2 linked regions of the Homo sapiens genome follow. The protein of the gene in region 1 purifies or fractionates together with the protein of each later gene. This does not show direct contact. Each region holds a gene or a part of one and is shown in the gene's direction. Other genes may lie near its edges.

Region 1 (3,832 bases):
ATAATAAATAAATAAAATCTGGAATAACTTTTGTCAGGTAACACCCATTGGACCTCTCTTAGATAATTTTATATAAAATGATCCGCTGAGGTGGGCAGATCACGAGGTCAGGAGATCGAGACCATCCTGGCTAACACGGTGAAACCCCATCTCTACTAAAAATACAGAAAAATTAGCGGGGCTTGGTGGCGGGCGCCTGTAGTCCCAGCTACTCGGGAGGCTGAGGCAGGAGAATGGCGTGAACCTGGGGGGCGGAGCTTGCAGTGAGCTGAGATGGCGCCACTGCGCTCCAACCTGGGTGATAGAGCGAGACTCTGCCTCAAAAAAAAAAAATAAAATAAAATAAAATATTACCATTATTTAATGTACTTTTTAAAAAAGCAAGATAATCTAATTAAAAGTAGTCCCTGTTATACATGAGGGGTTTTTATGGTTAACATCTTAAAAGTTACTTAGATTTTTTGATTTTTTTTTTTTTTTGAGACTGAGCTTGCTCTGTCACCCAGGCTGGAGTGCAGTGGCATGACATTGGCTCACTGCAACCTCCACCCTCCAGATTCAAGCAATTCTCCTGTCTCAGCCTCCTGAGTAGCTGAGATTACAGGCGCTTGCCACTACACCCAGCTAATGTTTGTATTTTTTTTTAGTGGAAACAGGGTTTCGTCATGTTGGCCAGGCTGGTCTTGAACTCCTAACCTCAGGTAATCTGCCATCCTCAGCCTCCCAAAGTGCTGGGATTACAGGCAAGAGCCAACGCACTTGGCCCACGTTAGTTTTTTTTTTTTTTTTTTTTTTGAGATATGGTCTCACTCTGTCACCTAGGCTGGAGTGCAGTGGTATGATCAAAGCTAACTGCAGCCTCAGCTTCCCCAGGCTCAAGTGATTCTCCCACCTCAGCCTCCTGAGTAGCTGGGACTATAGGCATGCACCACCATGCTTGGTAATTTATTTATTTTATTTATTTATTCATTTATTTATTTTTTGGAGATGGAGTCCCTCTCTGTCGCCCAGGCTGAAGTGCAATGGCGCGATCTCAGCTCACTGCACCCTCCACGTCCCAGATTCAAGCGATTCTCCTGCCTCAGCCTTCTGAGTAGCTGGGATTACAGGCGTCTGCCACCACAACTAGCTAATTTTTGTATTTTTAGTAGAGATGGCATTTCACCATGTTGGCCAGGCTGGTCTTGAACTCCTGACCTCAGGTAATCCACCTGCCTCGGCCTCCCAAAGTGCTGGGATTACAGGCCTGAGCCACCGCACCTGGCTGCCTGGCTAATTTTTGTATTCTTTATAGAGATGGGTTTTCGCCATGTTGCCCAGGCTGGTTTCAAACTCCTGGCCTCAAGGGATCTGCCCACCTCGGCCTCCCAAAGTGCTAAGATTATGGTATGAGCCATTGCACCCAGCCAAAAGTTAGTTTTTTTTTAAAGCCAAGCCATGCGCCTGTAGTCTTAGCTACTTGGAAGGTTGAGATGGGAGAATCACTTGAGCTCAGAAGTTAAAGGCTAGCCTAGACAACATAAAGAAACCCTTGTCTCCAAAAATAAAACAATGAAATAAATGTTAATTTTTTAAAAAATATTGAACATCGGCTGGGTATGCCTGTAATCCCAGCACTTTGGAAGTCTAAGATAGGAGGATCACTTGAGGCTAGGAGTTCAAGACCAGCCTAGGCAACATAGTAAGACGCCATCTCTGCAAAAAAAATGTAAGAAAACTAGCCGGGCACAGTGGTACGCACCTGTAGTCCCAGCTACTGGGGAGGCTGAGGCAGGAGGATCACTTAAGCCTGGGAGGTCAAGGCTGCATTGAGCCATGATAGCACCACTGCACTCCAACCTGGGTGACAGGGTGAGACTCTGTCTCAAAAAAAAAAAATGTATGTATATATGTCCTATGTCTTCCTTTATTTATACTACTATATATATGTATATGCACACGCATACACACACACACACACACTGAAAGAAAATGATGAGAATATAGTTAGGTTTTAGGAGAGCAAGAGGAGGTAGGGGACTGTCTGTGATATTTTTTCTCAATATAGTAAGAGAAGAAAGAATATTTATTATGGACCAAATATACGTCTGGGTCATCTATTTCTGATCTAGTTAGTCTACTGGAGAAGAGGATGCTGTATCTGAAGCAAGATAAGTTAATGAAAAGAAAATTAGTTTTAATGTATTTCATAGTAAGTATTTTAGAAGAAAATATAATAAATGAAGGAAAGCATAAGTGGACTCATCATCTTAGTTGCAGAACATTTCTAGAAATGACATCTAAGATTAGGCCACTAAAGGAAGCATTCTTTTCACTTTGTATTTCAGTCTCTCTGGGGTCATTGGTGGAAAATGGCAAAGCAGTCTGTGAAGCAGAAAGTGCGTGTATTTGTTGAGCAGTGTCTTGTGGGTAGAACACTGAAATGCTGAGGGGTGAAAAGGAAAACTGGCTTTCAGGGAGAGAGGGAAAAATGGACTGCTCGTCACTCTTTTCTGATCTTCTTAATGAATGACCCCTCTCCTCTACTTGTTATTTGATAATGACTACTCAAAATTTCATTGTTCCCTTCTTTTTAGCTAGAATGGGTACTAGGAAAAAAGTTCATGCATTTGTCCGTGTCAAACCCACCGATGACTTTGCTCATGAAATGATCAGATACGGAGATGACAAAAGAGTAAGTGCGATGTGTTTGCCTTCAACTGACTGGGCCTCTCTGTCCCACCTTGCTATAGTGTGACCGTATTTCCAAGCAACCTTTGAAGGACCAAGACAGAATTGGACAGGATCCAATGGACTCTAGAGCCCATCAAATCCAAACCACCCCCTCACACACTGCTAATGAAGAAATTAATAAAATCCCATCGTTAATTGTCTTTTAATAATTTTACCTTTAATAAATTAATAAGTTTACCTTTACCCTCGTATCTGACACAGAAGAATTGACATTTGTTCACATTCATAAAGCTTTCTAATGATTGATCTGTCATTGTATAATCGCCCATGGGGTGCAGTAAGAATATCTTGAGTTCATTACTGTTTAGCTTATCAAAACAGCTGGAGAAATACTTATCAAGAGAAGTGGAAAGATATATCCGTCCCTATATCCTCACCCTGAGAATGCTTCTGAAGGCTTAGGACAGTGTAAGAGTGTTAGATATTTTCATTCAGCAAACAATTATGGGCCTACTCTGGGCAGCATTGAGACATTCTTCAAAGGAAAAATTCAAGGGCAAACTGCCCAAGCCTCGCAGGTCCTAGCGGTCAGAAAAGAGCTCACATGCAGCCCTATCAAATGTGTCCTGCTGGACATGGTTTTCAGCGAACACAGAAGCACAGAGCATTTAATGTGTGAGTGGACCAAGTCTTTCTTTCTTTCTTTTCTTTTTTTTTTTTTTTTTTTGAGACAGAGTCCCACTCTGTTGCCCAGGCTGGAGTACAGTGGCACAATCTTGGCTCACTGCAACCTCCGCCTCCCAGGTTCAAGCGATCGTCCTGCCTCAGCCCTGCTAGTAGCTGGGATTACAGGCACGTGCCACCATGCCTGGCTAATTTTTGTATTTTTAGTAGAGACGGGGTTTTGCCATGTTGGCCAGGCTGGTCTGGAACTCCTGACCTCAGGTGATCTACCTGCCACGGCCTCCCAAAGTGCTGGGATTACAGGCGTGAGCCACCATGCCCGGCCAAGTCTGTCTTTCTTCATCTTAATTTTTCTCTCTGTAGCCAGGTATAGCTCCTGCATTAGGGCAGTCAGTGTAAGATTTCAGCAAGAGTCTTTACATCAGAAGTTCTCATCAAGAAGATTGGAATCTACCACTGACCTTACCCAGTATGT
Region 2 (3,166 bases), on another chromosome or scaffold:
ATAGGATGAACTGTTAAAATGACAGTAATATACAGCAGCTATAAAGCAAAGTATGGATGTCATTAAGTCACAGAAATATGTTTTGAAGTTAATCAGGAGCTAAAATTATAAGCTGCATAGCAAGGTCCTGTTAGAAAGGAAACAGACAAAAGGAGAATGCTGGCAAAGTGAGATGGAGTCTGAGCCGCCAGGCATCCGAGCCTGATTGAGGCCATGGAGGTGGGTCATGGCACCTTGCCCAAGCACTTCTGCTCTAATGACATGAGTACATGAAGTTCTTTGTGAAAAATAGGGCCGATTGTATTTAACTTAATAACTTGAATTATATTCTTTGTGTATAACTTTTCAGAGAAGGCAGTTTTGCTTTGGGGACTGAAAAGCCCGAGTTGTAGTTTCAATGTCAATTTATTTCATCAACACTAGAAACTAATATATTAACTAAAATAAAGATGCCAAAAAATGTATTTCACGTTACAATGTATCTTTAGCACTTTCTTAGGAATGAGTAGATTCATGACACAAGATTATCTGATCTAGTAATATATTCTATTCCTATATTTAATGTGTTTTAGAGGCAACTACCATTTAAGGATAATAAAGTTGTTTCTTTTGGCTCCTTAAATAGCTTATGGCTTTTATTTTGGAAGAACATAATTACACTCATGTGTATCAGCCAGTGAATGTGTAAAAATAATTTTATACACTTTGGAAGAAGACAGTCGTCTGTATCTGTTTCTTTTAAATTATACAGCATCAGAATTTCTCTTGGTACAAAAAAGAAATTAACCACCAAGGAGTGCCTTAATGTCCACAGTGAGCCCTTGGTAATGAGTTAGGGTTTTTGTTGATATGTCCAAAATACTTTTTAAGTATGTTTCATTGTAAATTAATCAGAATAAAATTTTTCTTGCTATTCACCTGCCAGTATATATTTCTGTGATCACTGCCACTGCATATACAGTATCTGGTTAGTTTGATCTTTCAACGTCTCTTTTACTTTTCTTTCTGTCCTGACATCCTTTTTAATTTTTTTCTCCATGATTTTTCATGCTGTACAGAATGCACTCATGAATTGCATTTCAGGAATATTTAATACCATAATAGCAAGTTTTGTTGACAAACATTCAAATTGGTTTCAGCTCTAGAAATTCAATACTTAAATTAGAAGGAGACACATGTTCCTCAGAACATAATAGCTATATTCCTTTTATAGCTCTCCGTTTCATTAGGCAGCATGAGCATCTGAGAACCTCAGTATTAAAGCAGTAGGACCTGTATAAATTATATGTAAATATGATAATTAAGCATTTCTTTCCGATGGTATAGATCCGTTGAAGAATGTTTTTTTTCTTAGAAACAATCTATGTGTTTTAGGATTCACATGATCTTGAATTTTTTAAAAATCACCTGGCCAGCTAGCAATTAAATATCGTTTACAAATTTACTTTCACATTAATCAGTAAGCAGATATTCCTTCTCATTTCTAGCAAAATAAAATTACATGTCAAGTTTCATCTGAAACTATGTAATACCTTATTTGCTAGCCTCTAAAAATTGTTTTCATTCCACATAAGAATTTGCTAAGACTGTTGCTTGACCTTGGTGGCTTTATTTTGTTCAACAGGTCATGTACGTAGAAGGGACTGCAGTTGTGATGGGTTTTGAAGATCCCATGCTACAGACAGATGACACTCCTATTAAACGCTGTCTGCAAACCAAATGGCCATACATTGAGTTACTCTGGACCACAGATCGCTCTCCTTCACTAAATTAATTTGTCTAAGTATTTATAAGGAAGATCTTAATAACAGATGTTGAAAGAAGGAGTCAAGACTGGCAATTGGCTGGATTAAGCTAAACACTGGTATCACTGATTAACTGTAAATAACAATTAAAAACACATTTTCAGTGTTTATGATATGTTTAAATTATTTGTCCTAAAGCTTTATGTTAAAGATTATCCTATTTTACCCCTTCGTGTGAAATTTACTAGCAAAATTAAGCTTTCATCAAAGTTCATCACTTTTGCATTCAGATACTTGGTCATTTACTTACCAAATTACAAACGCAATACTACAGCATTTGTATATTAAGTATCACAGTTACTATTGATAAACTACTTTTGGGTTTTATTTCATTGAGGCACTTTTTTTATTGTTTGAATGATTCCGGCTTGTAATATATCAGCCTCTACAATGAAATGCAGAAGAGTTCATTTTTCTAAGATCTGTTTTTCATTAGAAATATTGACAAATAACACATTGTCAACCTGGATCCTTTGACAATTTACTTAACTCTGGCATGTTCACAAAAAGTAGAAACTCTAAGAGACCATTACCATTTATTCACAGATGTATAGGGGATGTATTCTAAAAACTGACAGAAAAGAGAATCTGATAGTCAACACTGTTAACTTTTACTGTGTAATTGCCAAATACACTTTTCCAAATTTGTCCCAACAGCCCTGTAAGCCAGCTTTCTTCTATATTTATAAACACGATAAATGCATGAGAAGATCTGTTATTACATTAGTATATTACGTTATTTATTATGATCCTAGTTGATGGCCTAAATAAACACCTTTTTCTTTAACTGTACCCTTGCATTTTTTACATTGGTGGCTCAAAATAAACAAATACGTACTTCTAAATGTTTCTACCCAATAACCCTGAGAGCACAGAGTACTACAAATGGCTAAGTCATACAGGACCTCGAATAAGAGACCAGGCCTTATGCTAACCTAAGAGCTCTGCTAACTCAGCCAGCCAGAAGCATGAGAACCCACATGGCAGCTTTCTAGACCAGTGAGCAAAGATGCAGAAGCCCGTTTACTTGAGAGAGAGATCTGCTGTATTCTGATAGGTTTGTGGCCCAGCAATTTAAAATCACATAGCCATTAATACTTTTTTTCCTCCACGTGTAAAGCCACGTGTAAAGCAGATAATTATGTAGTATCCTCTTACACATTTCAGAACTGAACATTACCTTCAATAGTATAGTTCCTGTGTGAATTTCTGTTTGGGTTTTGTTTTCTTTCGTACACACACACAATTACAATATAATTAAGCATAGGGAAAGGCATGAGATTTTGTGTATAACTTTTGGTGACATTCTGTTCAGGAGTATGATACTACTTATTAAACTTACAGCTTTCAAATGTCAATAT

The links.
Region 2: the proteins of KIF9 (region 1) and MINDY3 purify together in Homo sapiens (affinity purification with mass spectrometry; one large-scale study listed by BioGRID and IntAct). This does not show direct contact.

The regions. Positions count from the first base shown.
Region 1 is NC_000003.12:47,276,124-47,279,955, reverse strand, and holds part of KIF9 (kinesin-like protein KIF9), read left to right. Parts: intron 1-2,576; coding exon of another isoform or gene 2,577-2,581; coding exon 2,582-2,674; intron 2,675-3,832. UniProt on the Homo sapiens protein: Essential for normal male fertility and for progressive motility of spermatozoa.
Region 2 is NC_000010.11:15,777,600-15,780,765, reverse strand, and holds the end of MINDY3 (ubiquitin carboxyl-terminal hydrolase MINDY-3), read left to right. Parts: exon of another isoform or gene 1-917; intron 918-1,624; coding exon 1,625-1,774; 3' UTR 1,775-2,592; downstream 2,593-3,166. UniProt on the Homo sapiens protein: Hydrolase that can remove 'Lys-48'-linked conjugated ubiquitin from proteins.